Regions from separate parts of the Homo sapiens genome. Here region 2 is linked to region 1. Evidence: fine-mapped expression QTL. A gene starts in region 1. The other region holds a variant in brackets. All regions are shown on one strand. Distances are between the middles of the regions.

Region 1 (5,000 bases):
AAATAGCAAAAATGTGCTTTTCTGATACCTGTCAACCAAACAGTAACTGACTGCATTATTCTTTTCTTCCATGAGAGCCCACTAGTCCAAAGAGCAACAGAAATGTTATGTCTTTTTCTGGCAAAAGGAGGTAAGTGGTGGAGCCGTGTGGCCGGAACACTAAAAGCTTCCTGCCCAATGGTTTGGCGTTCTCAGGCTAGGACAAAGTTGGTTGTATAAGTAATCCAACCACTACTGGAAAAACACACATCGAAGCGTCAATGAATGCACCTGTAGTCCCAGCTACTCGGGAGGCTGAGGCAGGGTTATCACTTGAGCCCCAGGAGTTCGAGGCTGCAGTGAGCTACGATTATGCCACTGTACTCCAGCCTGGACAACAGAGCAAGACCCTATCTCAAAAAAAAAAAGTTTCCCAGGGGTCATTAAATAAGGCATAATGGAATTGTCCATTTCCTCAATCATAAATCCCTTTCTTAAATCATATAACTTCATGACAATTCCTTTAAGGGAGATTTTCTCCGTTTATCAGGAGCAATACCCTGCAGTATTAGAAATCACTATTTCTGACCGGGTGCAGTGGCTCACACCTGTAATCCCAGCACTTTGGGAGGCCGAGGCGGGCGGATAGCCTGAGGTCAGGAGTTCAAGACCAGCCTGGCCAACATGGTGAAACCCGGTCTCTACTAAAAATACAAAAATTAGCTAGGCATGGTAGCGGTTGCCTGTAGTCCCAGCTACTCAGGAGGCTGAGGCAGGAGAATCACTTGAACCTGGAAGCGGAGGTTGCAGTGAGCCGAGATGGCACCCCTACACTCCAACCTGGGCGAAAGAGCGAGACTCCGTCTCAGAAAACAAAAAAAAAGAAAAAAAGAAAAGAAAAAAATCACTATTTCTAATATCATTAGCCTTAAAAACTCAATAAACTTGCAAAGGCAAGAGTTCCTGCAGGCAGGGCCGCGCGTGGTGGCTCACGCCTGTAATCCCAGCACTTTGGGAGGCCAAGGCGGGCGGGTTACTTGAGCTCAGGAGTTCGAGACCATCCTGGCCAAAACGGTGAAACCCCCGTCTTTACCCCAAAAAAAAAAAAAAATTAGCCGGGTGTGGTGGCGTGCGCCTGTAATCACAGCTACTCAGGAGGCTGAGACAGGAGAATCGCTTGAACTCGGGAGGCGGAGGTCGCAGTGAGCCGAGATCGTGCCGTTGCACTCCAGCCCGGGCGACAGAGCGAGAATCCGTCTCAAAAAAAAAAAAAAAAAAAAGTTCCTGAAGGGAAAAGAGGCCCCTTGGGAGTATTCTCCAACCTCACCCAAACTATTCAACGGTAGGAATTCTCAACCTTTTAAGAATGGTAACGATGTCATTTTTCAACACTTTCTCTCTTCTCTGCCGTCCGCTTCAGAAATTAAAGTCATTCCCTTCCCCCAGTTCCAAGCCACTCACGAGGTGCCAGCTTGCAAAACCGGGGCGTTGGCACGAGTCTGGTAAATGCATGAAGCCCCCACAGTCCCCAGAATCTGAGGATGGCACCCAAGGCCTGCATTCTCCTAGCGTCGTCCTCTCTAAGCGCACAATTCCTTTCCCCAAAACCACCAGAACCCCCAGCCCTCGCCAAAGACAATCAAAGCCTAGAAAGGGTTCTCTTTCCTTTCCTTCTGATTCAGAAACCGCTTCTCACCCGCACCACCTCCCCACCTCCACTTTCCCTTCTGCCGCGAGCCCCCGGCCCTCCGTCCACCCGCCGCGGCCTCCCCAGCGCCCGGAGCTGCCGTCTCCCCTCCCGCACTCCCGTTTCCCCTCCTGAGGGGCGGAACGCTTACCTGCTCGATGGCCAGCTGCACCTCGGGCGTGAGCTGCAGCACGGCTTCCAGCTCCTCCACGAACTCCAGTTCCTCCTCCTCCATCATTCCGCCACCCGGCCCCCTGCCGACCCCCGCCGCGAGCCCAACTCAGGCCTCCAGCCGCCACCCAGGCCCCAGCACAGCAACTCCCTCGCGGCAGCGACCTGGTGAGCCCGGCTCCGTCAGCCGCTCTGTCAGCCGCTCCGGCACTTCCGGCAGGCCAGGGCACTTCCGGGACCGGGGAACTGTGGGATCACGGCGGACTGAGACTGGCGGCGTTCCTGTCACGTCAGGTGTCTCCCGGGCAACGCAGTATCCCGGCGGCCCCGCGTGGCCTCAGCGCGTCCTTAGGATGGGCGGGGCCTCTTCCCTCCCCAAGGCGCGCCCCGCACTGAGGACCCCGAGGTTGGGGTAGGGTCTGGCCTCCAGCAGGACGCCCGGATGAAAGTCAGCCCTGCGGCGTCGCCAACCGCAGCCCACAGCCTCCGCGGGCAGCGCAGCGGCGACCTCTCAGCTCCCGGGGCCCCCTCGGTCAGTGGCAGCGGGTGTCCCCGGCCACGGGGGCGACGTGATCCCAGCTGGCGAGTGGCGATGTCGCCAAGGACATTCGTAGGACGGGACAGTGCCCACTCGATAGAAATTCCCCGTGCGCCGGGCTCTGCGCAGAAGCTTTTCGAGGTGACTGCAGCCTCCTTATGGGGAGAAACGTCTTTTTTTTTTTTTTTTTTTTTTTTGAGACGGAGTCTTACTTGTTGCCCAGGCTGGAGTGCAACGGCGCGATCTCGGCTCACTGCAACCCCGCCTGCTGGGTTCAAGCGATTCTCCTGTCTCAGCCTCCCGAGTAGCTGGGATTACAGGCGCCCGCCACCACGCCCAGCTAATTTTTGTATTTTTAGTGGAGACGAGGTTTCACCATGTTGGCCAGGCTGGTCTCGAACTCTTGACCTCGTGATCCGCCCGCCTCGGCCTCCCAAAGTGCTGGGATGACAGGCGTGAGCTACTGCGCCCGGCCAGAAACGTTTTTTTAAAGCCAGATGACGCAGCGCCCTGGAGCTGGGGAGACGTTTACTGAGGTTGAATATCCGGGATCTAAGTCCTGAATAGTCCACCATTGATAAGTTGTGTGACTTGGAACAAATTACTACCCCGCGTCGATGTGGAGAGGATTAAACATTAACAGCGCGATGTAAATTCAAGCTGGTAATACAGGAAATAGTGAGGTGCCCAGCCCTTACCCCCACAAAGGAACAAATAAGCCAGATCACCGATCACCCTGTGAAACCACCTTTCCTGCAGACACTGAAAAGAAGGAGGGAATTGCAGCCCAAGGAGGACCCGCTCCACCAGGTGAACCGGGAAACTCCAGGAGGGAAACGCGTTGGCCCCACTGAACTTTTTTTTGTTGTTGTTATCAGAGTTGCTCAAAGTAAAAAATAGGAGCAGTATGATTTTTTCTTTTATTTTTAATTGACAAATAATAATTATATAAACAATGTAATTTCTAACAACAAAGGAATGCTAAAAAATATACATTAAAAAAAGAAAAAAAAGACAAAATAAAATATACATTGAACCTGGTGCAGTGGCACAGGCCTGCAGCCCCAGCTACTCAGGAGGCTGAGGCAGGGAATTATTGACTTTCTGAGATTGAATATCAGGGGTCTAGATCTCATCCCACCACTGAGGATCGCTTGAGCCCAGGAGTTTGAGGCTGCAGTGAGGAATGATTCCTTTGCGCCACTGCACTCCAGCCTGGGCCACAAAGGGAGACTCTGTCTCTTAAGTAAACATAGAATATTATTGATTCATAAAATCATGATTTTGAAAATTAATGACATGAAAAATATGCACAATATATTTCAGAAAGCAAAATGTATAATTTCATTTAAAAAATGCATAGCATGGTCCCAGCTTTGTGTGTATTCTGTGCCAATAAAGCTCACAGCAAGGAAATATTACTTTTCTGCACGTGATGAATGTACATCCTTTGTACATTTTCCCAAATGTCTACAATGAGCCTGTAGTTCTCTCATGCTCAGAAAATATGAATGCCTTTTTCTAAAAGGAAAAGGTAATTATAGCTACTTATTTTGGACTTTTTTTTTCCTTTAAAAAATTAAGATATTTACATACAGTAAAATTTACTCTTGCAATTTATGATGCAGTGAGTTTTGATAAATGTGTATAAACGACTGGGCATGGTGACTCACGCCTATAATCCCAGCACGTGGGGAGGCCGAGGCTGCCAGATCACTTGAGGTCAGGGGTTCGAGACCAGCCTGGCCAACATGGTAAAACCCGTCTCTATCTACTAAAAATACAAAACGTAGCTGGCCGTGGTGGTGCACAGAATCACTTGAACCCGAGAGGTGGAGGTTGCAGTGAGCCAAGATTGCACCATTGCACTCCAGCCTGGGTGACAGAGCAAGACTCCATCTCAAAACAAACAAACAAATAATAAGAAAACAATAATAAAACAAAATAAATAAATGTATATAACCATGTAACTACTACCACAATCTAGTTATAGGACAATTTCATTCCCCCAAATTCCCTCTTGCCTCACCCCATCCACTGGCAACCACTGACTTGATTTCTGTCCCTATAGTTTTTGTTTTTGTTTTTGTTTTTTTGAGACGGAGTCTCGCTCTATCACCCAGGCTGGAGTGCAGTGGTGCAATCTCAGCTCACTGCAACCTCCGCCTCCCGGGTTCAAGCGATTCTCCTGCCTCAGCCTCCTGAGTAGCTGGGATGACAGGCACGTGCCACCACACCTGGCTAATTTTTGTATTTTTAGTAGAGACAGGGTTTCATCATGTTGCCCAGGATGGTCTCAAACTCCTGACCTCAGGTGATCTGCCAGCATCAGGCTCCCAAAGTGCTGGGGTTACAGGCATGAGCCACCACGCCTGGCCTGTCCCTATAGTTTTGATATTTCCAGAATATCATATAGATGGAATCATACAGTATGACACCTTTTCAGTCTGGCTTCTTTCATCTGTCATAAAGTATCTAAAATTCATCCATGTTGTTGCATGTATCTGTGGTTCATGTCTTCTTGCTGGTATTCCACTAGATGAATACACCACTATTTGTTTATCTAGTCCCTGGTTGAAGGACATATGGGTTTTTCCAGTTTTTGGCAATTATGAATAAAGCTGC
Region 2 (5,000 bases), 190 kb before region 1:
TGTAATCCCAGCTACTCGGGAGGCTGAGGCAGGAGAATTGCTTGAACTCGGGAGGTGAAGGTTGCAGTGAGCCGAGATCGCGCCATTGTACTCCAGACTGGGCAACACGGTGAGACATTTTCTCAAAAAAAAAAAAAAAAAAAAAAAAGATGTAAAGTAAATGTGGAAACATGTTACATATTTTGCTGAGCTGAGTAGTTAGTTACTGTTTTTTACATTATTTTCTGTACATTAATTAACTGGAATTTTTGTTTAAAGACTACCATTCAGGACTCAACTCTGTCTTCCATGTAGCAAATTTTGAGAGCCTTGTCAAAATCAAAGCCATGTCTTAGCATTCATTTGTTGGTAGGAAAAAAAAAATCAGTCATTATATTTTAAAGCATATGGAGATATTTCCTACTTTTCTACTTCCCAGAGATACATTATATGCATAAATAATTGTACAGTCTTAAATGACAGGAAGGGTTTGAATGCACCAGGCATAATTCTCTAGTGTCCCTCATATACAGGGAGATATGACACTTTCATTCCCTGGCCAGTCACCATAAAATTCTGTCTTTACCAGACACTGAGAGGTGAAAACCCTGGTCTCAGGTTTTATACATAAAGCAAGGCAGTCAGAAAAGGCGGGAATGAGCCTGACAGATTTGGCGGCTGTCTGTGCAAAGACAAGACAGAAAGGTCCCATTTATCATGAAAATCTGCTAGTTTTCAACTTTGAAATAGTTGATAATTCATCTTCTTAGGCATGAGACATTGGGCAAGGGGTGGCTATTGCCACATTCATTTCTGCCTCAGCGATAATTTCTGGGGCAGTGTGGGCTGGCTAATGTTGTTGATGGGATGTGGGGGTGCAAGGGTGGCCAGTATGCCATGCCTGTGAAGGCTGATCACCCAGCAATGGAAATCTTTGAGAGGGGCCCTTTACTTCCCGAGGAGCCTCCTACAATTCTTGGGGACATGATGACTATCAACAGTGATGAAAATTTTGCGTAAATAAGATACAGGCCCACACTCCTAGAAGACAAAGAACCATGTGAACAAAACCACATAGGTGAACCATATTGGTCCCACCATAGAAAATTCTTCAATGAGGTGGCACAGGGGAGACAGCTCAGGCTATCAGGAGGGATGGAACAAGGTGGACACATGTTCTATTTCTTTTTCTTTTTAAAAAAATTAGGTATAACTTTCACAGAGTACACAAACACCACGTATGCCATTTGATCAACATCCAGACATGTGCACATCCTGCTGCCTAACGGAAGACAGAGCACACTTCTGGCATCCCTGAAGCCTTCCTCATGCTCTCGTCCAGTCAATGCTCTCCTTTCCCTCTCAACAAACTCTCCTGCTGTCTCTCACTGTAGCTAGTTGCCTGCTCATAAACCTGCTCTGAACATTCGTCTCTCCTACTCTCTCTCACTGTAGCTAGTTGCCTGCTTCATAAACTTGCTGTGAACATTCGTCTCTCCTGCTCTCTCTCACTGTAGCTTGTTTCCTGCTCATAAACCTGCTGTGAACATTCGTGCGCATGCCTTTGGTGGTCATAAAGTCCTCATTTCTCTAGGGTGGAAGCTACTCAAGAGTAGAACTGCTGGATCATGGGGTAGGCATATGTTTGGCTAACTGCCTAGGAGTTTTCCAATGTGGCTGGGCTAACTTCCATTTCTACCAGCACATATGAAAGTTCCAGATGCTCCACATCCTTACCAACACTTGGTATCATCACTCTTTTAAATTATTATTATGATTAGAGACAGGGTCTTACTCTGTCACCTGGGCTGGAATGCAGTGGTGCAATCATAGCTCACTGCAACCTTGAACTCCTTGGCTCAACTGATCCTCCTGTCTCAGCTTCCCGAGTGGCTAGGACTACAGGCACGTGCCACACTTGGCTAATTTTTAAATTGTTTTGTAGAGATGGGGTCTCGCTGTGTTGCCCAGGCTGATCTCAAACTGCTGAGCTCAAGCAGTCTTCCTGCCACAGCCTCCCAGAGTGCTAGGATTACAGGCACAAGCCATCGCACTTGGCCAAAGTCTTTTAAGTACTCAAAATAACCAATCTTTTCTTTTATGGTTAGTGCTTTTAATGTTTTGTTTAAGGGATCTTTGCCTAACCCAAGGTCATAAACATATTGTCTTATATTAAATCTTCCAGAAGCTTTATTGCCTTATTTTTTAGAGCCATAATCCATCTGGGATTAATTTTCTAAAAATGGAGATATAATTCAAAAACCATAAAATTTACCTTTTGGAAGTGTACAATTCAGTGGTTTTTAAGGTCTATTCACAAGGTTGTACAGCTGTCAGCATTATCTGGTTTCAGAACACATTATCACCCCAGAAAGAAACCCTTACCCATTAGCAGCCATTCCCATCTCCCCCTCCCTCAGCCTTTGCCAACCATTAATCCACTTTCTGTTTTACGGATTTGCCTGTTCTGGACATTTCACAGAAGCAGAGTCACACAATAGGTGGCTTTTTGTGTCTGGCTTCTTTCACTTAACATGGTTTCAAGGCTCTTCCATGTTGTAGCATGAATGGGTACTTTATTCCTTTTAATGGCTGAGTAATATTCCCTTGTATGGATAGACCACATTTTGTTTATCATCAGCTGATGGACATTTGAGTTGTTTCTACTTTCTGGCTATTATAAATGGTG[C/T]TGCTATGAATATTTGTGTACAAGCTTTTGTGTGAACACATTTTTTTTTCAATTCTTTTTTTTTTTTTTTTTTTTGAGACAGAGTCTCACCCTGTCACCCAGCCTGAAGGTACAGTGGCGCAATCTTGGCTCACTGCAATCTCTGCCTCCCAGGTTCAAGTGATTCTCCTGCCTCAGCTTCCCGAGTAGCTGGAGTTACAGGTGCACACCACCATGTACAGCTAATTTTTGTATTTTTAGTAGAAGTGGGTTTTCACCATGTTGGCCAGGCTGGTCTCGAACTCCTGACCTCAGGTGATCTGCCTGCCTCAGCCTCCCAAAGTGCTGGGATTACAGGTGTGAACCATGCACCCTGCCTTTTTCAATTCATTTGGGTATATATCTAGGAGTATAATTGCTGGGCCCTGTGGTAACTCTATGTAAATGCCAAACTGTTTTCCAAAATGGCTGTACCGTTTTGCATTACCACCAGCAATGTATGAGTGTTCTAATTTCACCAAATCCTCTTTGGAATTGATTTTTATATATGGTGTGTGGCAAAGGTCAAGATTTTTTTCCGATATGGATATCCAATTACCCAGCACTATTTACTGAAAAGACTCTCTTTGAATGATGCCACTTTGGTCATAAATCAAGTATCTACACATGTGTGGGTCTATCCCTCAGCTCAGATCTGTTCTGTTGGCCTCTTTGTCCCTGGGGCCAGTGCCACACTGCTCTAATTACAATACTGCTGCAATAAGTCTTGATATCCTGAGCTTTAACTCCTCCAATTCTGTTCTAAGATTATTTTGGCTGTTGTCTTCTGTATTTTCATCTAACTTTTAAAATCAGCATATCAATTCACACACACACACTCACACACACACACACACACACACACCCCTGCTGGGATTCTACTGTATCTATAGATAAATTGATACAGTAATTAGGATTGAATTCTATCTATAGATTAATTTTGGAATAATTTGCCGCTTTTTAAATTGTTATTTATTTTTTATTGGGCAGCCTCCTCAGCCAGAGCAGGCTCAGAAAGACTCCATATGTATTTCTTTTTGAGTCTTTCTTATCAATGAACATGAGCTATCCTGTCATTTTAAAGGTCTTTATGGATTCTGTGTCTTAATATTGTACAGTTTTCTGTGTAGAAGACTTGTACATTTTTAATTTACTCCTAGGTATTTAATGTTTCCTGATGTTATTGTAAATGATTTCATTTAGGCCTGGGAGCCATGGCTCACGCCTGTAATCGCACCACTTTGGGAGGCTGAGGAGGGTGGAGTTTGAGACCAGCCTGGGAGACACAGGGAGGCAGACCCTATATCTACCAAAAAAAAAAAAAAAGAGCCAGCCAGGCATGGTAGTACATTCCTGTAGTCCCAGATACTTGAGAAGTTGAGGCAGGAGGATGGCTTGAGCCCACGAATTGAGACTGCAGTGAGCTATGATTGTGCCACTGTACTCACTCCAGCCTGGGCAATACAGCAAAAAAAAAAAGTATTTCACTCAAAAATGTTCATTTTTAAATTGTTTGCTGCTGGTATATAGAAATATATTTTAAAACACTTTCCTTATAGCCAGCAACCTTGCTAAATTTATATTCTTTTTTTTTTTTTTTTTTTGAGACGGAGTCTCTATCACTCAGGCTGGAGTGCAGTGGCGCAATCTCAGCTCACTGCAACCTCCCAGGTTCAAGCAGTTCTCCCAGGTTCAAGCAATTCTCCTGCCTCAGCCTCTCGAGCAGCTGGGATTACAGGCGCACCACACCTTGCCCAGCTAATTTTTGTATTTTTAGTAGAGACGGGGGTTTCACTGTGTTGGTCAGGCTGGTCTTTAACTCTTGACCTTGTGATCCGCCCGCCTCGGCCTCCCAAAGTGTTGGGATTAAGGGTGTAAGCCACTGCACCCGGCCTGCTAAATTTATATTCTAACAGTTTATCTGTAGATCCTTTTAGATTTATTACTCATAATCATATTTTCCATGAAAAATGACAGCTTAGTTTCCTCCTTTCTAATCTGTATATATTTTGTTTCTTTTAAAAATATTGTATTTTTTGCCTTGTTGTCCTAGCCAGGACTTCAACAACAACGTGGGATAGAAATGGTGACAGCGGACATTCTCCTCTTATCCTTAATCTCAAGGGAAAGAAAAGCTTTCATAGGTGAACGCAGTCATAAGAATAATTAGTGACCCTGCAAAACAGGATGATCTGAAGATCATAAACTAGCAAGAAGCATGATCAATATTGGTGTGGGTCAGTTCCACGTGCCCTTGCAATTGCTCGAGGACTCTGGGGCCCAAAGATAAAGAACTCACTTTATATAGTACTCA

What was found.
Region 2: its variant is fine-mapped to the expression of VPS53 in whole blood (TOPMed, PIP above 0.99).

What each region holds. Positions count from the first base shown.
Region 1 is chr17:712,806-717,805 of GRCh38, forward strand. VPS53 (VPS53 subunit of GARP complex) reads right to left here and starts at 2,034. Exons shown (of 22, transcript NM_001128159.3): 1 at 1,818-2,034. The coding sequence starts at 1,904. RefSeq lists an enhancer at 2,506-2,575.
Region 2 is chr17:525,873-530,872 of GRCh38, forward strand. The region is part of intron 19 of VPS53 (VPS53 subunit of GARP complex); the gene reads right to left. The region is part of intron 1 of VPS53-AS1 (VPS53 antisense RNA 1); the gene reads left to right. Among named protein-coding and RNA genes, the nearest start is that of VPS53-AS1, 5.6 kb to the left of the region's middle. The variant C/T (reference allele first, on the strand shown) is at 2,669.